Linked DNA regions of Homo sapiens. The protein of the gene in region 1 interacts with the protein of each later gene in a pairwise test. Each region holds a gene or a part of one and is shown in the gene's direction. Other genes may lie near its edges.

What was found. The genes of interacting proteins can lie anywhere in the genome.
Region 2: the proteins of TRIB3 (region 1) and PKNOX2 interact in binary tests that used the Homo sapiens proteins (3 or more experiments, as listed by UniProt).
Region 3: the proteins of TRIB3 (region 1) and PCSK5 interact in binary tests that used the Homo sapiens proteins (3 or more experiments, as listed by UniProt).

Annotation. Positions count from the first base shown.
Region 1 is NC_000020.11:390,731-397,759, forward strand, and holds the end of TRIB3 (tribbles homolog 3), read left to right. Parts: intron 1-556; coding exon 557-849; intron 850-5,467; coding exon 5,468-5,960; 3' UTR 5,961-6,829; downstream 6,830-7,029. UniProt on the Homo sapiens protein: Inactive protein kinase which acts as a regulator of the integrated stress response (ISR), a process for adaptation to various stress. Inhibits the transcriptional activity of DDIT3/CHOP and is involved in DDIT3/CHOP-dependent cell death during ER stress.
Region 2 is NC_000011.10:125,426,740-125,433,768, forward strand, and holds the end of PKNOX2 (homeobox protein PKNOX2), read left to right. Parts: intron 1-2,272; coding exon 2,273-2,349; intron 2,350-3,223; coding exon 3,224-3,402; intron 3,403-4,426; coding exon 4,427-4,653; 3' UTR 4,654-6,650; downstream 6,651-7,029.
Region 3 is NC_000009.12:75,893,662-75,900,690, forward strand, and holds part of PCSK5 (proprotein convertase subtilisin/kexin type 5 isoform 3 precursor), read left to right. Parts: intron 1-7,029. UniProt on the Homo sapiens protein: Serine endoprotease that processes various proproteins by cleavage at paired basic amino acids, recognizing the RXXX[KR]R consensus motif. Likely functions in the constitutive and regulated secretory pathways.

The DNA of each region.
Region 1 (7,029 bases):
GTGGCTCACACCTGTAATCCCAGCCCTTTGGAAGGCTGAGGCGGGAGGATCACCTGAGGTCAGGAGTTCGAGACCAGCTTAGCCAACATGATGAAACCCCATCTCTACTAAAAATACAAAAATTAGCTAGGTGCGGTGGCACATGCCTGTAATCCCAGCTACACTGGGGGCTGAAGCGGGAGAATCACTTGAATCCAGGAGGCGGAGTTTGCAGTGAGCTGAGATTGCGCCAGTGTGCTCCAGCCTGGGTGACAGAGCGAGACTCCGTCTCAAAAAAAAAAAAAAAAAAAAAAAGCACAGACAGTGGAGTGCATACGTGCAAATCTCAGCCGTGCTGTTTGCTGGCTGTGTGGCCTCTCAGCTTCGTTAACCGTAAAATGGAGCAAGTCATCCTACCTTATAGGACCATGGTCAGGGCTGAGTGACTCGGTCAGTGAAGCGCTTGGTGCGATGCCTAGCACATGGTAGTGTCTAATAGGTCAGCTGTGACTGTTTGCAATGCCAGCCTCAGCTCCCGGGAGTCCCCAGCTGTGCTAACACCATGCTCTGCCCACAGGTGTACCCCGTCCAGGAAGCCCTGGCCGTGCTGGAGCCCTATGCGCGGCTGCCCCCGCACAAGCATGTGGCTCGGCCCACTGAGGTCCTGGCTGGTACCCAGCTCCTCTACGCCTTTTTCACTCGGACCCATGGGGACATGCACAGCCTGGTGCGAAGCCGCCACCGTATCCCTGAGCCTGAGGCTGCCGTGCTCTTCCGCCAGATGGCCACCGCCCTGGCGCACTGTCACCAGCACGGTCTGGTCCTGCGTGATCTCAAGCTGTGTCGCTTTGTCTTCGCTGACCGTGAGAGGTGAGTGTGGTCTCAGAGACCCCAGCCACAGACACACCCAGGGGGTGGGCCATGATGGAGAGAAACCGAGGCCCAGGAAGGCAAGGTAACTTAGGCAAGAAGTGGGAGAAACTGAAGTAACCAGCAGCCCCTGTTTAGTTCCCTGAGAAGAGTTGACTCAGGCCAGGTGCAGTGGCTCACGCCTTTAATCCCAGCACTTTGGGAGGCCGAGGTGGGTGAATCACTTGAAGTCAGGAGTTCGAGACCAGCCTGGCCAACATGGTGAAACTCCGTCTCTACTAAAAATACAAAAATTAGCCTAGTGTGGTGGCGCACACCTGTAATCCCAGCTACTCTGAAGGCTGAGGCAGGAGAACTGCTTGAACCTGGGAGGCGGAAGTTGCAGTGAGCCAAGATCACGCCACTGCACTCCAGCCTCGGCAACAGAGTGAGATTCCATCTCAAAAAAAAAAAAAAGAGTTGACTCAGTCCTCTTGGGAGCCCCTTGGGATTCTGGGATGGAGCACTGAGATGTGAAAGTCATAGTAGCCGACAGTGACGAAAGCATCGCCACATTATCTAACGTGGTCTTCCATCCTTACAAACACGAGGCAGGTACTGTTATTATCCCCATATGATCAAGGAAACTGAGGCCCAGAGAGCTCAAGTAACTTGCCCAAGATCCCATAGCAGAATAAATGGTAGAGCTGGGATTTGAACCTAGATCTGACTCCAGAGCCTGGGTCTTAATTCAATCTGAGCTTGAGAGGCAGGGGCCTGGCTGGGCTTACCAACTGACTTTGGGTGACCTAGTGTCTCTGAGCCTCAGTTTCTCCGTTGGTAAGGAAAAGGGCTGGATTGTTAGGGTGTTTTCAGGATTCCAAGACCACAGCCAAAATAGGGTCTGAGGTTCCCCACACGGGAACGTTTTCTGTGAAACTGAGAATTAGCACTTTTTGGTTAAAAGAATCTTCCTTCTCTAGGTTGGGATGCTAAGAATTTTTTTTTTTTTAATTGAGACAGAGTCTCACTCTGTCACCCAGGCTGGAATGCAATGGCGCGATCTTGGCTCACTGCAACCTCTGCTGCCTGGGTTCAAGTGATACGCCTGCCTCAGCCTCCCGAATAGCTGGGACTACAGGCATGCGCCACCATGCCTGGCTCATTTTTTCTATGTTTAGTAGAAACGGGGTTTTGCCATGTTGGCCAGGCTGGTCTTGAACTCTTGACCTTAGGTGATCCGCCTGCCTCGGCCTCCCAAAGTGCTGGGATTACAGGTGTGAGGTACTGCACCCAGCCTAGACGCTAAGAAAAATTTTTAAAAGATAATTCTGGGGAGAAGGGCAGAGAGACTCGCCTCCTGTTCCCTCTCCAGATTCCTGGGGGCAGTCAAGATGTGTCAGGGAGTGCACTAAGCTGCCAGTTACACAGGAGTTTTCTGTGGAGAAAGGAGTGTGACCCCATGGCATTTTAAAAAACTTTTTATCTTGAAATAATTTTAGACTTTTAGAAAACCTACAAAAATAGTTCAAAGAGTTTCTGCATATCCTTTAACCAGTGCTCTCCAATGTTAACACCTGACGTAGCTATGGTACAATTACCCAAACTATTAACTAAGCCACAGATTGATTCCCACTTCCCGAGTTTCCCACTAACACCCCTTGCTGTGCAGGATCCAGTGAGGATCCCAATTTAGTCATCAGTGGTTTCCTTGGTCTCTTCCAATCTGAGACAGTTCCTCAGTCTTTCCCTGTCTTTGAAGACCCATGACCTTGACACTTTTTTTTTTTTGAGACAGGGTCTCACTCTGTCACCCAGGCTGGAGTGCAGTGGTGTGATCACAGCTCACTGCAGCCTCAACCTCCCGGGCTCAAGTGATCCTCCCACCTCAGCCTCCTGAGTAGTTGGTTCTACAGGTGTGTGCCACCCCACCTGGCTAATTGAGATGGGGTCTTGCTATGTTGCCCAGGCTGGTCTCAGACTCCTGAGCTCAAGCAATCTGCCTGCCTCAGCCTCCCAAAATCCTGGGATTATAGGCGTGAGCCACTGCTCCTGGCCATAACCTTGAGACTTTTGAAGAGTACTGATCAGTTACTTTGTATGTCCCTCAATTTGGATTTGATTGATGTTTTCTCACAGTTAGATTGCAGTTATGTATTTTTGGCAAGAACAACACAGAATCGATAGGCCCCTCTCCACATCATATCAAGAGATACTTGAGCTGATAGTCATTCCTATGTCGTGACCTTGATCACTTGGTTAGGGCAGGACCTACCAGGTTTCTCTACTGTAAGGTCCTAATTTACCCTTTGTAATTGACAAATACCTTGGGGGAGGTAAGCTAGGCATATAAATATCCTGTTTTTCCTCAACTTTCACCCACTAATTTTAGCAGCCATCCATCTTGCCTATAGCAGTTATTATTGTGGTGCTTGCCTAAGTCTAATTTTCTTTTTCTTTTTTTTCTTTCTTTCTTTTTTTTTTTTTTTTGAGACAGAGTCTCGCTCTGTTGCCCAGGTTGGAGTGCAGTGGCACGATCTCGGCTCACTGCAACCTCCACCTCCCGGGTTCAAGTGATTCTCGTGCCTCAGCCTCTTGAGCAGCTGGGATTACAGGCACACACCACCACACTTGGCTAATTTTTGTATTTTTAGTAGAGATGGGGTTTTGCCATGTTGGCCAGGCTGGTCTCGAAATCCGCCTGCCTTGGCCTCCCAAAGTGCTGGGATTATAGGCATGGGCCGCTGCGCCCAGCCCCCAAGGCTGATTTTCTGTTAATATTTCCTTCTACATTTTATATTAGAACAAGCATGCCTTTTTTAAAGAAGTAACATTTATAATGATGTTTAAGCTAGTACATAACTTCAAACACATTTTAGGCTTAGGGTAGATACAACTACCCCGGACCTCCTGGAGGAGACAGCGTGCTTCCTGCTCTTTTCAAGAAGTCACTTGATGGCCCACACCTGTTATCCCAGTGCTTCGGGAAGCCAAAGTAGGAGGACTGCTTGAGCCCAGGAGTTCGAGGCCAGCCTAGGCAACACAGAAAACCCCATCTGTACAAAAAATTTATAAAAATTAGCCAGGTGTGGTGATGCACACCTGTGATCCCAGCTACTTGGGAGGCTGAGGCAGGAGGATTGCTTGAGCCCAGAAGTTTGAGGCTGCAGTGAACTAGGATTGCACCACTGCACTCCAGCCTGGGTGGCAGAGTGAGACCCTATCTCTAAAGAAAAAAAAGAAAAAAAAAAAGAAAAATCACATGAGAGTCATTGGTAGAAGAGGGACCGTGAGTTAGATAGACCTGTGTTTAAATCCTGGGTTCTGCTTCTTACCTGCTTTTTGGCCCTGAGCAAATGACTTCACCTGCCTGAGCCTTTGTTTCTTCATCTGTAAAATGGGCTAATAATGCTGACACCCCTTGTCCCCCAATACTGTGATTCATAGGATTGGTCAGTATTTGTGAAATGCCACTGGACACCCAGGAAGTAATGCCATAAAGAAGAAACTAATAGCAGTGGTAATAGAATGATTACTATTAAAGTCATCTTTGAGTGCTCAGTGGAAGTTGTTTAAAGTAGAAATTGCAAATGGCAGGACACACTTTTTTTTTTTTTTTGAGACAGGGTCTCACTCTGTCACCCAGGCCGGAGTGCAGTGGCGCGATCTCAGCTCACTGCAACCGCCACCTCCTGGGCTCAAGTCATATCCTTCTGCCTCAGCCTCCCAAGTAGCTGGGACTACAGGTGCGAATCACCATGCCTGCTAATTTTCGTATTTTTTGTAGAGATAGGTTTTTACCGTGTTGCCCAGGCTGGTCTTGAACTCCTGAACTCAAGTGATCCCCCTACCTCGGCCTCCCAAAGTGCTAGGATTACCGGCATGAGCCACCGCGCCCAGCCTTACACACTTTTTTTTTTGCCCTGCTTACCTGTTTGTGTTTTTTATATAAACTGGTTGCCAATATTTTTTAAATGGGGACCTTTTCATTAAAATACAATTCCTGGCTTCTCTTGGGGAAAACAATGGGAATGTGGGGCCATCTTGGGAACTGCGAGGGTGGGTCACAGCACTGGCTCTGAGTATCTGCCAGCCAGCGTTCCCATCCCAGGCCCATGCTCTACAGCTGTAAAATGGTGTCTTCCTTGCAGGCTGTAGCCTAGATAGAATGAGGTGAGCCAGGTAATGAGCTGGGTCAAGGGCCAGGAACACAGCAGGCACTTGGTAAACCCTAGAATGCGTTGTGTACCCTTTTTAGGTAGCGCTTGTGCTGAGATGTCAGGCACACTTCCTGTTTCTCTCATCTTATTACCTGCCTGGACCCTAAGTTTGTAGCTGGTTTAAGAGAGGCTTAACCCTCTCAGCCCCATCAGCCCCCTCCCCAAGGGACTCTGTTGAAAAATGTATTCCTTTCAGAATTTTAGTTTAAATTTAATTGCTCTGTGGCCTTAAATGACTTAACCTCTCTGAGCCTGGGCTTGGGTATCTGTAAAACAGGATCAGACATCACAGGACTGGCTTGTGTCTGTCAAAGGCCAGCAGGCACTTGGAAAGTGGGTGCCACAAGGGTGATAGCATGGGGTGGTGGCATGGGGGTTCTGGGTAGGACCTGACCCTTCTGTTTCTCCCCATGTCCCAGGAAGAAGCTGGTGCTGGAGAACCTGGAGGACTCCTGCGTGCTGACTGGGCCAGATGATTCCCTGTGGGACAAGCACGCGTGCCCAGCCTACGTGGGACCTGAGATACTCAGCTCACGGGCCTCATACTCGGGCAAGGCAGCCGATGTCTGGAGCCTGGGCGTGGCGCTCTTCACCATGCTGGCCGGCCACTACCCCTTCCAGGACTCGGAGCCTGTCCTGCTCTTCGGCAAGATCCGCCGCGGGGCCTACGCCTTGCCTGCAGGCCTCTCGGCCCCTGCCCGCTGTCTGGTTCGCTGCCTCCTTCGTCGGGAGCCAGCTGAACGGCTCACAGCCACAGGCATCCTCCTGCACCCCTGGCTGCGACAGGACCCGATGCCCTTAGCCCCAACCCGATCCCATCTCTGGGAGGCTGCCCAGGTGGTCCCTGATGGACTGGGGCTGGACGAAGCCAGGGAAGAGGAGGGAGACAGAGAAGTGGTTCTGTATGGCTAGGACCACCCTACTACACGCTCAGCTGCCAACAGTGGATTGAGTTTGGGGGTAGCTCCAAGCCTTCTCCTGCCTCTGAACTGAGCCAAACCTTCAGTGCCTTCCAGAAGGGAGAAAGGCAGAAGCCTGTGTGGAGTGTGCTGTGTACACATCTGCTTTGTTCCACACACATGCAGTTCCTGCTTGGGTGCTTATCAGGTGCCAAGCCCTGTTCTCGGTGCTGGGAGTACAGCAGTGAGCAAAGGAGACAATATTCCCTGCTCACAGAGATGACAAACTGGCATCCTTGAGCTGACAACACTTTTCCATGACCATAGGTCACTGTCTACACTGGGTACACTTTGTACCAGTGTCGGCCTCCACTGATGCTGGTGCTCAGGCACCTCTGTCCAAGGACAATCCCTTTCACAAACAAACCAGCTGCCTTTGTATCTTGTACCTTTTCAGAGAAAGGGAGGTATCCCTGTGCCAAAGGCTCCAGGCCTCTCCCCTGCAACTCAGGACCCAAGCCCAGCTCACTCTGGGAACTGTGTTCCCAGCATCTCTGTCCTCTTGATTAAGAGATTCTCCTTCCAGGCCTAAGCCTGGGATTTGGGCCAGAGATAAGAATCCAAACTATGAGGCTAGTTCTTGTCTAACTCAAGACTGTTCTGGAATGAGGGTCCAGGCCTGTCAACCATGGGGCTTCTGACCTGAGCACCAAGGTTGAGGGACAGGATTAGGCAGGGTCTGTCCTGTGGCCACCTGGAAAGTCCCAGGTGGGACTCTTCTGGGGACACTTGGGGTCCACAATCCCAGGTCCATACTCTAGGTTTTGGATACCATGAGTATGTATGTTTACCTGTGCCTAATAAAGGAGAATTATGAAATAATTTTATTTTTCTCTGCAATTTCTTCCATCCTTTCCAACGATCTCTTACCAGTTTTTCCTGCCTTCAAAACTGGCCCCCATGGTGAAAGGCCGTAGAGTTGTGTCTTAACCTGGGCTGAGTGGTTTGTGAGAACAGATTACCTGGAGCCCAGTGGGTCTTCCTGCACTCCTTCTGTTTCTTCTGGCAGCAGCAGTGTCTCT
Region 2 (7,029 bases), on another chromosome or scaffold:
CTGCACACTGGAAATAAACAATGTCTAATGAGATGGGGTCCCTGCCTGAGAGAAGCTCATGGCCTAGTGGGGGACACATGTCTTGCCATCTAGTGGGCGAAAAGCAATCATTCAGAGGCCACGGTGACCAGCTTTGCCTCAGGGAGTCGGGAAGGGCCTTGCAGAGGCTGTGATCTGTGGCAGGCCCTCACAGAAGCTCAGAAAGGCACGCGAGGACAGGCAGGAGGAAGCGCGCTCCAGAGGAGGGCCAGCACGTGCGAAGGCATGGAGGCATGAAAGGCCCTTGCACCTGGGAAGGCCAAAAAATCACCATATTTTTGCTGCTTTTTGTCTACAGACCAGCTGGCTATGGACAGGGAGGCTGCTTGGCTCTTTCCCACAAATAGGGAGGTTGGAGCCAGGCACTAGGGCTTGACCCCAGAAGGTGTCAGAGCTCCCAGAGTCCTTGCCTCTCTGCCCCCTGGGGCCATCTGCACCCTCTCCTCCCATCCTGCCTCCGCTCCTTCCCAATTAGAATGAAAATTGGCTCCTGTAATGCTGATGTGCCTACTTTCTTGTTAGAATCTTAATACCGTATGAATCACAAGTCCCAGCTGCCTTGGCATGGTGGTCAGGGTCAGAGGTTTGAATTAAAGCAACACATGGTCCTGATGGCTTCATCTGGGGGATGCTGAGGTAGGGGAGAGGCTGCTCCTCCTTTTCCACCGATAATGCGAGTACCACCAAGGCTGCTGACCGCAGCCTTTTCCCTCAGAAAGTTCTAAGCACCTTGTAACACCCCCTGATAATAAGAGTATTCGTACCTTTTATTGAGCATTTTACAAGTATAATTTCATTTATTTGTCAGATGACTTGCTGATGTGTAGTTAGGTGACGTGCCTGAGATTTCATAGCTAGTCATAATAGAGCCAGATTTTGAGACCTCCCATCTCGGGGACCTTAGACAGCTCAAGCACCACTTTCTAATACCACTCCAATCAAAAGGAATGATTTTAGCCTGAGGATGCTGGATGGCTTGATCTTCTGCCATAAGAGCCCCCAAACCTCCCCTAGCTTCCAGGACAAAACTCTGACTTATTCAGACGTTCGCCACACCTTAATTGCATGCTGGGTGCCAGGCACAGGGCTGTGGCCTGAACAAGTCCTAGGGATGCATAGACTCAGCCATCCTGTGGCCTCCCTCCCAATGGGGTCACGACTCTCTTCCCACTGCCACCCAGAGCCTTCTCATTCTTTAATGTGACCTGTTCAGTCTTCCCCACCACTGCATTTCTCTCCTTCTTAGCCTCTACAGGGCTCATCACCCAAACCACAGCATTGAGTGCTGTGCTTTTGCTTTCCTTCACTCAGCAGGCATTTGTATGTCATTTGTATGTGGAAGGCACTGGGGATACATTCAGTATCCCAGTGCCGTCATGAAGCACAGTCTGAGAGAGGGAGACAGATGCGTAGTCAGTGCACGGGCTGCAGCATGTGGGGGACTGAGAGAGACACCTGCCCTGCTCTCTTTCTCACCTCCACTCAGTCCTATAAAGTGGCATCATGAAGCAATGGAAGAAAGACTGGACCCAAATCGGAAGACCTGAGCTGGTGCTACCATCTGGGGGACACTGGAGGAGTCATTCCATCTCTTCATCTGCAAAGTGGGAATAACAATACCTAACCTGCCTGCCTTTCAGAGTTTCAATGATGTGCTTTATTAAATAAAATGATGATTTTTTAATGAATAAAATGCATGAAAGCATTTTACAGGTTATAAAGCACTATACAAGTAGTACTCTTCTGTCTCCTAGCCATGCCTAGCATAAATCTGGGCACATAGTAGATATTCAGTAAATAGCAGTTAACTTAAATTGATCCATTCACCCCGCCTACCACCTTCTATGGGCGTTTGAGGCCATTGGAAACCCTAACACTGACAATGCCTGCCCTGCCTGCTGGGGGCGGCAGTGAGGATCAAGTGAGAAGGATGTGCCTTGGAAGCTGTCAGTACTGAACCATCTTGGTCTTGGGAAACCTCCCTGGCTCCCCATTGTGGGGGCTTGGCTGAGGACTGGCCAGCCCGGGATGTGGAGTCTCGGGCATGGGGCAACCTTCCTCCAAGCCCTAGGTCCATTCTCTGTGGGGAGCAAACATGACACTTCCCCAATTTTGGTTCCCAAACCACTCGGGCTGCCTGGCTCAGGATAGTGCCCATGGCGTGGGCACAGTCCCTTGGGGGGGCCAGATCAGCATATGCCCAGCCCTCACTAGTCTCCACCTCTCGTTTCAGCACCCCTACCCCACGGAGGATGAGAAGAGGCAGATCGCAGCCCAGACCAACCTCACCCTCCTGCAAGTAAACAACTGGTGAGTTTGCATCACCTGCATGCAGGCTCCCAGATCCAGGGGCCACCTTCTGGGCAGGGGAATGCGTAGCAGGGAAAAGAGACTCGAATGCCAGGATCTGCCTCAATCTCAGCCCAGCTACCATGCCAGTCCCCCCATTTAGGCTAGAAGCAGAAAGCAAGAATCAACACTGGCACCTGTGGCTTCATCTGCAGCTTCTCAGCGCCCTCTGCTGGGACATTGTGTCAGGCACATCCCTGGAAGCTTCTTGAGGAAGAGAAAACCCACGCCCACCTGAGCACCCAGCCCACCTGCACTTCAGAGACAGACAGGATTGCCCGCAGCTGTGCACCGGAGGCCAGTGGTCATCTGGTCTTCCCCACCCCCATGTGAACTGAGACTAAAACTAGCTGCAAAGCTGGGAGTGGGGAGAGGGAGGAGGAGTAGCCATTCTGACCCCACAGGGATCTCAGCTTTCCCAGTCTCTGTGCCTGGCTGGGCTGTCAGGGGAGCTCAGAGAGCAAGGTCTGGCTGGATGGAAGTAGACCCCAGAGCTGAGGGCCCTGATCCGAGCCCTTGGCTCTCTGGAGAGAAGTCAGAGGTTAGTGCCTATGACTACCATGCTCTCCTCCTCCGTTCAACCTGGAAGGTCTTGAGCAGGGATTTCTGACCCCCCATGCATTCTTCCCATATGACTTTGCAGTTACCAAGCCCCAGGAAATTTCATGAACTTCTCAGCACCCAGGGCCCTCCTCCTTGCTGGGCTTTTACATCCGGGATGGGAACCCCGGTCTGCTCTGTGAAATGGAGTCTGAAGGCAGCTTCACCCTCCCTGCCCCCACCCCAAGGCCATGCAGGTGATGACTAACCAGGTCTCCACTTTACCTCTGGGCAGGTTCATCAATGCCCGGAGGCGCATCCTGCAGCCCATGCTTGATGCCAGCAACCCAGATCCTGCCCCCAAAGCCAAGAAGATCAAGTCTCAGCACCGGCCCACCCAAAGATTCTGGCCCAACTCCATCGCTGCGGGGGTGCTGCAGCAGCAGGGCGGTGCCCCAGGGACAAACCCCGATGGTAAGAACTGGGGCTGAGTGCACCCTAGACAAGGGCTGGGGGTGCTCCTGGAGCTTCTTCAGGTCAAGCCGTGCAAAGATTCAAGGGCTATCTCCTTACCTGGGCTCCCATCGCTGCCATGCCACAGTGATTATCCCTCCCCAAAGCCCTAAAGAAGGGGATGTTTTTGTACATAATTTAACAGACCAGATGCACTCTCATAAAGAAAAGCGGGAGTTGGTGGTCACGCAAGTCAGTGACTGCTCAGCAGAGCCCCCCATGTCCGCACCCATCTGAGTTCCTTAGCACCAGTAAGTATCTGCACAGCTCTTCAGGAGCCAAGGCCATCTATAAATATCAAGGCAGGCAGCTGGCTCGTGAACAGGGGCCAGGAAGAGCTCTGTTTTCCCAGCCTCTCCATCACACCCTCCATATACACTTTTCTAATTGCCAGTCGCCTAGTGCACAATGAATAATTCAATGAGCCAAGCATTTTATAGCTTGGCATATGAAGATAGCTCTGTATGGGGAGTGGAGCGTAGGTGTGCGTGTGTGCACACATAACCTCATGCACACGTGTATGTGTATGGTTGTGCACAGGTTCCTTTGTGATGAGCCATCTTATGGGTTATGATGGGAAAAAAAAAAACAGATTTAGGGGGCTGGACCAGCCTGGGAGAAAATTCCAACTCTGTCATCGCTGACAATGTCATCTTGAGCTAATGACTTAACTGTCTGAGACAGAATGGGGATAATAATACCTGCCTTACAGAATTGTTAGAAAGTCAAAAGTGGCCAACACATAAAGAAAATGTGCAGTGAACGGTGGCTGGGAGTGCTGCTTCCTGAGATGGGGCAGGGAGTAGCTGACTAGTGAATGGATGGGAGACTTCATACCAGGGCATTGTCCAGCTCAGGCTTGGACAGCTCTAAAAACAAGGAGTTCACTGCTCTATGAGCCAGTCCATTAAACCCTGTCCAACACAGAGGTGCTGGCCCTGACCAGCAGCCCCTGCCTCGTCCTGACCCTTGCTTTCTCTCGCAGGTTCCATCAACTTGGACAACCTGCAGTCCCTGTCCTCAGACAGTGCCACCATGGCCATGCAGCAGGCTATGATGGCTGCACACGATGACTCATTGGATGGGACAGAAGAAGAGGATGAGGATGAGATGGAAGAGGAGGAGGAGGAGGAGCTGGAGGAGGAGGTCGACGAGCTGCAGACGACAAATGTCAGCGACCTGGGCTTGGAACACAGTGACTCCCTGGAGTAGTCGGGCAGCCCAGATGGCACTGATCACTGAGCAGGAGAGGAGTGTCGCCGGGAGGCCTTCAGGGTGGGGGGGAAGGGGACATGGGCAGGAAGCACCGAGGGAGTTGGGCCCTAGCTTCCCCAAATCAGTAGCTTGAAGAAAGGCAAAGGAGACACCTGTTCCTTCCCAACCACCGAGCTTCAATGAGGACCCCAGCCCCACTTCCCTGGAACTGCCGAGGACTCTGTTTGGCGGGGCCAGTCGAGCAGCCTGTGTGGAAAGACAGGAGTGAGATCTGGACTCACCAAATCCCTGAGGATAGATGGCACCCATGGCCCCCACCCACGGAAGGACTTGAGTTGTTTACAAGCCCTGCACTGAGGCAGATTGGTGCTGTTCGCAGAGTAGGCCTTTGCCCGGGGGCAGACTTAGAAGGAAGGGGAGAGACAAAGGGGGACTGAGTTTCATCCCCAGAAGTTTCTCAGCTCCTTTGACAGACATTCAAGGGCAGGAGGGAGCCCCAAAGCATAACCAGTGGCCAGAGGAGTGGGAGGGCCTGAGGCATCACATCTTGCAGATCAGAATGGGATGGAATCCACCAGGCTCCAGCTCATCCCTCCAAGGCCCTGTCTCTGCGCACAGCAACCATGGACATGGGAGAAAGGGATGGGAGCCACAGTGCCCTTCACTCTCTCCTGGAAACCAACTGTAAGCTGGTGGGCTCAACCTGTGGGAGGTTAAGAGGAGTCCCTTCTGGGTTGACTCCAAGAGCCAAGGAGATGGCAGACCCTGGGCTAGGAACCATATGGAGGTGACTTTGAGGCCACAGCTGTCCCTAGGTGATCACAGAACTTAGCTCCTTTAACAACAGGACAATGGTTTTTTACCCTAGATGTTCCCACCTTCAGTGCTCCACGCCCTCCATAGACCTTCAGAGAAGGTGAAACCAGGTTATCTGGGAATCTTTCCAGCCCGCAGGTCGCCACGGCCATCCCTTTGCTCCCAGCCTGGCTCCATCAGCCTCCAGCTTCCTTTCTTCATTCTGTCCTTCAGGGAAGGCAGAAGAAACATTGGAAAGCATCTAGTCCAGTGGGAAGCCAGGGGTTGGAGAAGGTGCTACATCCCTCTTCCCATCAATATCCTAAATGTGGGGGAGGGCCCAGAGAATGGCACCCAAGAGCCTGCGGGGATGCCCATCCCACACACCCCACCCAGCTGTTCTAACCCTGCTATCCACAGCCCTGGAGGAACTGGGGCTCCTGGAAGGAGGAGGAGGCTCTCCACTGTCCACCCTAACACATACCCTCCCACCCACCTTCCAGACCCCCTTGGTTGGCACCCTCTCCTCCGGTTCCCTCTCACCCCATGGCTGTGAATGACAGGACAGGTCACACGTGTGTTTTCCATTGGGTTTAATTTAATGGACGTGCAGTTTCATTTGTAAATTGTGCATTGGCCACCTCCTTCAGTGGCAGGATGTGAGTGGCTACCTGGCTCAACTGGAGGGGACCCCTTGGGCCCTCTGGGGCTTCCCCTCCCCCACCTGGTTGGGGTAGAGCAAAAGGATGGTCACTCTTCCGAGGTCTCCCTGAAATGAATGTATTTCTCCCCCAAAAGAGCTGATATTTAATGTTTTAATAAGGATTTTTGAGAAACAAATAACCTTATTTATAATCTGGGTGATCCAATCATTTTTTACTCCCTTTTGATGCCATACATAGAGGAAAGTCTAGCTTTTTTGGCGTGAGACTTTTGCAATGTGCAGTGGGATAAAATGCATTTCCTTTTCTGGTTCGTTTTTCTTGTTAACACGCGCACACAGACACACACACACACCGTTCCACTCACCACCTGGACAGGCGTCCCCCAGCACGGACACACTGGCACACAGGTGCCCACATCTCTTCCTCTCAGCCCCTCCACCTGCCTAATGTTATGCAACCTCCTTCTGATGTATCCACCAAACCAGTACTGAATGTGGCCGAGACGTTTTCAGTAAATCTTATTACCTACCGTAACCCTGGTGCACAATTCTCTTTCTGTGGTTGCTGTGGCAATCCTTTGCTCTTTTCATGGGACCAGAGGCCAGACAAAATTTGGAGGCCTCAGTATACACCTGACTACCCAGGGAAGGGGACAAGGTAGATGTGCGTCCTGCGTGAGCTCAGCTGCCCTGTCTGGGGAGGAAGAGCCAATTTCAGCACACTCACCTTGTGTGCGGCCGGTTGTAAGGCAGAGCTAGGGAGAGAAGGCAAGGAAGCTCTGCACTGCCCTCTCCTGACAGCTTCCCCGACCGCAGCGGAAGCTATGAATCTGGTCCCTCTTGTCCACCATACTCCACCTCCCTCAAAGGCTTTTGCTTTCCTGTCTCCATTCCCGGCCTTGAATCCCAGGGAT
Region 3 (7,029 bases), on another chromosome or scaffold:
CTATTTACAAAAGGCCTTATAGTGAAGATTCATGGCTTCTCATTAAAAATAATAATGCTAAGAAAGTTTACATACAAATAACACCAAGGATGATTTATTGTGGTTTTACAGCGCCAATGAGGAAATTTAGTGCTTATAGAGGTTACAGAGGACCCCTTGAACCAGTGTAAAAAGATCAGCTATTCTACAGTGGAGAGCATTTCCTCTGTAGATCAAAGGAGCTTAAGCCTATGCTAAGTCTTTGGGGTGGTAAATGGAGTTCACACGTGCAATATCATTGCACTGTACAGGCCAAATGTATTTCTTATTCATCCTTTACTGCTCTGACCTTTCAACACTTTAGACATCCTTTTGTTATTCTTTCCATCAGTAAACCAGCTGTGGATCAGCTGAGGGCAGTAACTAATTTGCAGATGCGTCTGGAATGTTCTGTTTTTTACCCATTTGGGCTTGGGGTCTCATCTTACGTGTTGCAAATTGGAACTGAAACTTGTTATTATTTCTGCAGTCATTTACTATCCTGGTAGTATTTTTTATATCTTCGGTATGATATTCTAGGTGAGTAAGGTAGTAAATTTTCACCACAGTAAAGGTATAGTTTTGACCATTTGCTCAGAATATCAATGTAATGTTTTGTGTAGCATCTTAGCATTTGAAAGTCACGAGAGGTAAGATTTCTGGCCAGGGCATTTCTATGGAAAATAATAGCTGTGCCTCTTCTGTTAAAAAAAAGATGGGATGTGCAGAGTAACACAAGAAGAAAGCAAACAAACAAGCAAAAAGGACGTGCTTGATTTCCAGAAGGGAACATAAATGAAGGTTTTCTTGCCTTTGTTCATAGAGCTAGCATATGTTTTCACAAAATGTTTATATTTTGTGAATGGTTGTGCCTTGAAATCCTGCAATAATAATACTTAACCATAATCATTGTTAGTTGTTGTCATGTTAGCATATATTATCTTTTGGTTGGTATCGGAGTCAGCTGCAGAATGCCCTGCTTTTCTTCCCTACAAGTTCTGACTACCAGCCCTCTTAGTATCTAGTGGAACCAGCACCTTCTGAGCTGGCCGAGGGTAGGAGGTGTGCATGCCTATTGACCTGCACGGGAATAGAGGGAGAAGCCTTTGTCCTCCCTCACTAATCATGTGCTCTGACCCTTTGAGCTAACAATCTACTGGTTAGGCAATTGAAATGATATAAAGGAATAAGACCTGACATGTTGTTAATTGTGGACCTCCATTTAGAGTAAATCTACAAAGAAGAATTAATGTCTGGTTATTTGAATTCAGGGAGAAGATCCCTTGTGAACAAACAGATTGTTTACAATGTGCAATAGCTGTATTTATCCTTCTGTGAGTTGCTTATAATCCTTGATTCCAGCCTGAGATTACCAGTAGCAAAGCCCCTTCCCCAAACCACATAACAATTTGAATAACACCTCTGAAGGATAAAACTAAATGCAAGCCATACTGGAAAAATATTTTACCTAGAGCCCCCCCATTGACAGCATGTGGACTTGGAAACTCTGGAGAGGCCACTTTCGAGGCTGTGAAAGCAGGAAAGTCACTGAACTTAATGGAGCCTCTGTTCCTTCATCTGTAAAATGATAAATCTCTAGATAATAGAGTGAGTTAACTATGCATTGCTCAGCACATAGTTAGGCTTGCAGCGAAAGGTTTGTTTAATCTGAATCTGAGGAGAAAGGTCAAAATAATTGAGATCCAAAGTTTTAGATAAGGAGAAAGGAAGACATTTTAAAAATGGAGATGCGAAATGTGAAGATCAGGAAAATATATTTTTGAAGATTGAATTGTAAGAACCATATCATAGCTTTGTAGGCAGGGAAAATGATTTTCCCTTTCAGTGAGTAATTTAAAATATTAATAGTTTAAAAATAGTTTTATGTTAGATTCTAAACAATTAGGATTGATTTCCCATGGCAGGGCCCTCTTCCCTCATTCATCCTAGTCATAGGCCATGAAATGTTACAGGATAAGCATACTGCGGATGGACAAAAGGGAGGAAAAATAACCTGAAAAATTTTGTTAAATCATATTCGCATTTACATTTTATTTTTTATTCTGAGTGTAGTTTGTATGAGTAAAGCTAGAAGAAGCATTTTCCAAGTAGGTAGGAAGAGATACATTCGCAGGGAGAACTTTGTTCAGAGATGTCCTGAACACCTCCCACCCTGCTGATTAATTTTGAGCTGTGGATATTATAGGACGCTTGAAATGTTGATTCACATGGGCAGTGAATTCTGGGTGCTTATGGATAGTCCTGGAAATAGGGGATGTGGTTAGTCTGATGGGTTGTATGGGAGTGGATTGTGCTTGCCTAATAAATTCTTAGGCATTTTATAAACAGGAGAGTTAGTTGGTGCTGTAGTCCCAGATTGGTCTCTGTGTGATATATCTGGCTTTGCACAGGGCAACTCTTCATGCTCAAGATCCTCAGCCCTGACCCCTGCTAGCCACTCTCATATGCATATTTCTTATGATGAGGCAAATGAAGGGATAGTAGGGGAACCTTTGCTGGAAAAAACAATTCAGAGTGCATGGTCTGGTGATGGCGTGTCTGCTGCATTAACCTCATAGATAAGGAATGGTTTGTATGTGGTCATTGGGGATTTCGGGGTCTATTTGAAGTGAAAAACTGCATTTTTGTGAGCCTAAAGGCAGCTGACTTTGCCTTATCACTGTCTTTCATGGGCTTACATCCAGAGGTCCTAACCTTAAAGGTCAGCCAGAGAAACAGGGTAGTACAGTGAGAAAATTTTCAGCAATGTCTGACTCTTTGGCTGAGAGAGGGAGTCCTGACCCAGAAATATCCCCTGGGCAGGGAGGGATATTTTTGTTGTCGGTTCAAGTTATGTGAAGCAGTGTCTGGTTTTTACCAAGGCTGAAGTATCTCCAGGCATTGCTCTGCATTGGGACTTTTTTATTCATTTAATTCAGGTTGTGATCAATGACAGAAAAGCTGACTTTAGCTTCCTGGCTGGTAAAAATAAATGCTTATAGACATTAATGCATGCTAGAATACACACACACACACATATATACACATATACTTATATATGATATATACACAGATATGTATGTGTGTAATATATGTACATATGCACAGCATATATATGTCAATTTTTATTTTTACCAGAATAAAGTTTGCACATAGTTTAGAGTAAAATTACTCATGAGTGTTCTCACTAGTTTCAACAGATTATCCATCTCTACATCAAAGGGTACCAAGGAGGAACAATCAATACCAATAAACTCTCCAATTTGAGTTCATCCTGAGAGTAAAATTAGATCGGAAAGAAAACAAGACTAAGAGTCAGGTTTGAGTGAAATTCCAGGGTCTTTACTTTTATCAACCAACCTGACCCTCAGTTCCTCATTTTTCAGATAGGGAGCCATAATACCTACTCCATCCACCTCATAGAGTTGCTGTGAAAATCAGGTGACCTAATAGTGAAGATGAGTGTGTATTAGCTAAAATAAGGCATAGGGAGCATTATATGATCTTTAAAGACACCTAAGAGATGCACAGGCACTCAGAAGAGAATAACAACATACAGTAATTTTCCAGATTCTTGTGATTGTCCCTGGGGATATAATGGGGGCTGAAAGGAAGAGGAATAAGTGTTGTGCCTGATTCTCCCATAGGATGATGTGATAGCTACACTTTTCCCCCAAGAGCCATGGAGACAGGACAGGGGAGGGGGCAACTGACAAGAAAACCAGCCAGCTAAGGCTCCCATCTCCTGTTGGACAGCCCTTGTTTATAAGACATATACTCTATGGAGGTTGCAAGATTTTCTTTCTTTTCTTTTTTTTTTTTTTTTTTTCCCGAAACGGAGTCTTGCTTTTTGGCCCAGGCTGGAGTGCAGTGGCACAATCTCAGCTCGCTGCAACCGCTGCCTCCTAGGCACAAGTGATTCTCCTGCCTCAGCCTCCCTAGGAACTGGGATTACAGGCAAGCACCACCACACCTGGCTAATTTTTGTATTTTTAGTAGAGACGGGGTTTCACCATGTTACCAGGCTTGTCTCCAACTCCTGATCTCAAGTGATCCACCTGCCTTGGTGTTCCTAAGGGATTACAGGTGTGAGCCACTGGGACGAGGCAAGATTTTCTATTTAAAGTATCAAAACTTAGTCTTTTAGTTTGACTCCAGTGTGAGTCTGTATAGAAGACTAGTGGGAAGTAAAACTGACACATAATAGGCCCATGAGGAATATAGATGGGACCTTTTTCAGGTACAAGTGTCAAAAATCAACCCCAAACTGCTTAAAACTAACAAACAAGCAGATAAGCGTACTGGGAATTTGTTAGTTTAAACAGATTCACATGCCTTTATATGCCTTTCTGAAAACAGCTGAACACTTTTTGTAATCAGACCTTACCTGATCTGCACTTTCTTCATGGCAAAACCTACCCTGACCTAAACTGACATTAATTAGGCCCTTAGTTTGTTTCATTGCAGAAATATGAATTGAATTTGATTGCAGTGATGTTGTCCTTGATCCAGACAGAGGTGTATGTAATATACTCAAGTATGTGCCTCATTGTGCTATTCTCACCTGAATAATTCTGAGTTCTGAAACATATTTAAATCCAAGAGTTTCAAAAAAATGATTGTGGGCCTGTCCAGCTGAAAAGCCAGAGGTAGTGCTAATGTCAGCTGTTTCTCCTTTTCCCTCAGAAGGTGCTTTCTAGTAAGCAGCAAAGTTCATATGCTGCTTAGTACCTTTCTTATCCAGTATTGAAATTAACACCTGAAAAAGACTCCTGATCGTTGACTGGGGTCGTATCCCCACATGTGGGCCAATCACTTTGTCTAGGAGGGTAGCAGTATTTTGATGGGTGAGCTTGGGTCACATGTCCTCCCTCAAAGGGAGATGTTGACCTTTGATGGGCAGTCCACCAGTTGGGTAGGGACAGTTCCCCAAAGGAAAGTGGGATGCTGTTACTAGAATAAGAGAAAAGAGATGTGGGATAAGAAAAAAAAAAAAAACCCACTAGAGATCAGGTTTTATAGGCCCTAAATGCCTAGGCTAGAGAGTTTCAACCTTATTATTTTGGATAAGTTTATATTGAAGTTTATATTGAGGATCTCTGAGAAGGAGAGACAACAACCCACTGATTCTACCAGCACAAGTCTACCATGTAACATACAGATCAGAAAACATTCTCTGTTCTTGAGAAGCTAGAACATTTTCACCTATAATTATCATTTAGTAAGACAAATAGTAATGGACTTCTGGGTAGTATAGTATGGTTCAGTCACGCCTTGGGAGAGTCTGCTGGTAGCAGTGTGCACAATGAACTGAATGCATAATGGCAGAGTGGTTATTGTGTTGGCAATGATTATTGGTAATGGAAACAGGAGCCATGACAATGGAAAGATTTGGAAGTTCTTGTAGAGGATGATTCAATAGGGCTTGGTAACTAAATGGAAGTAGGGGATGAGGAGGAGGGAGAATGTGAAGATAGCTGTAAAGTTTTAGCCTTGGGACCAGGAGAATGGTGGACTGTTGTGTAGAATTAGGACAGTCTGCAGGATCATTTTGAGAACAAAAGAATAGGCTCAGCATTAGTTTATACTTAAGGTATACAACATGATATTTTGATATACATATACATAGTGAAATGATTATTACAGGTAAGCAAATTTACATATTTATTGTCTTCCATAATTACCCCTCCTTTTTGTGGTAAGGGCACCTGAAATCTAGTCTCTTAGCAAATAGTCAATAAACAACACAGTATTATTATGTTGTTTATCCCTAGTACTCCTGCTGCACATTCCATCTCTAGACAAATTCATCCTACATAACTGTGAGTTTGTACCCTTTGACCTACATCTCCCTCCTCCCTCTCCTCACCCCGGTAGTCACTGTTACACTCTGTTTCTATGTAATCAACATTTTCTCCCCTAAATTCCACATATAAGCGGGATCATCAGCATTCTTTTTGTTAGAAGATAGAAGGACATGCTTATAGAAATGTCTAGTAGGTGGAAGAGCATTTAGGTTGGGAAAGAAGTATAAATTAGCACTCATCATCAACCTCAGTATAAAGGAAGCTTGTGGAAGGGCTTAGGATTGTTAAGAGATGAAGCATGAAGAGAGGGGCACTGAGAAGAAAAGGCAGAGAAAAGAATGTCTCCACTTAGGGAGCGAGGGAGAACGGGAGTAGATGAAGGGGCCAGGAAGATGGAGAGAGCCACCAGAAGAAAGGGTGCCTCCTTTAGATGGTGTGCAGTAGTGAGAAGTGCTATAGAAAGAATCCAGGAGGATGTGTGTAAAGTGATAAGGAGGCTTCCAGTGCTCTTAGCACCAATGCTTGATTGAATAGTGGAGTGGAAGTCAGGTTGTGGGGCAGTAGAGAAACGGAGTACAACAGTTTTTCATTGGACATCTGCTTCTATCCACCTGCCAGCCTCCATTCGCTCCCTTCATCTCTTTCTTGCCAATGTGCTGGAGTAGTTAGGATCATAGGTTTAGAATTAAAAGGGTTTGAAACCTAATACTGCTCCTTCCTAGCTGGAGGACCCTAGATAAGTGTCTTAAGCTCTCTGTTCCTCAGTTTCTTCATGTGTGTAAGGGATATAATAACAAGAGTGATCCCCGCATACAATTGTTGTGAGGATGAGTTAAAAGTAGCTAGAATAGTATCTGACACACAAATACTCTGTAAATGAGAGTTATTATATCTTGTTTAAAATTTTTTTGGCCAGGTGAAGAGGCTCATGCCTGTAATCCCAGCACTTTGGGAGGCTGAGGGAGCTGGATCTCTTGAGGCCAGGAGATCAAGACCAGCCTGGGTAACATGGTGAAACCCTGTCTCTACTAAAAATACAAAAATTAGCCAGGTGTGGTGGTCTGTGCTTGTAGTTGCAGCTACCCGGGAGGCTGAGGTGGGACAGTTGCTTGAGCCCGGGAGGCTGAGGCATCAGTGAGCCGAGATCATGCCACTGCACTCCAGCCTGGGTGACGGAGCGAGACTCTGTCTCAAAAAAAAAAAA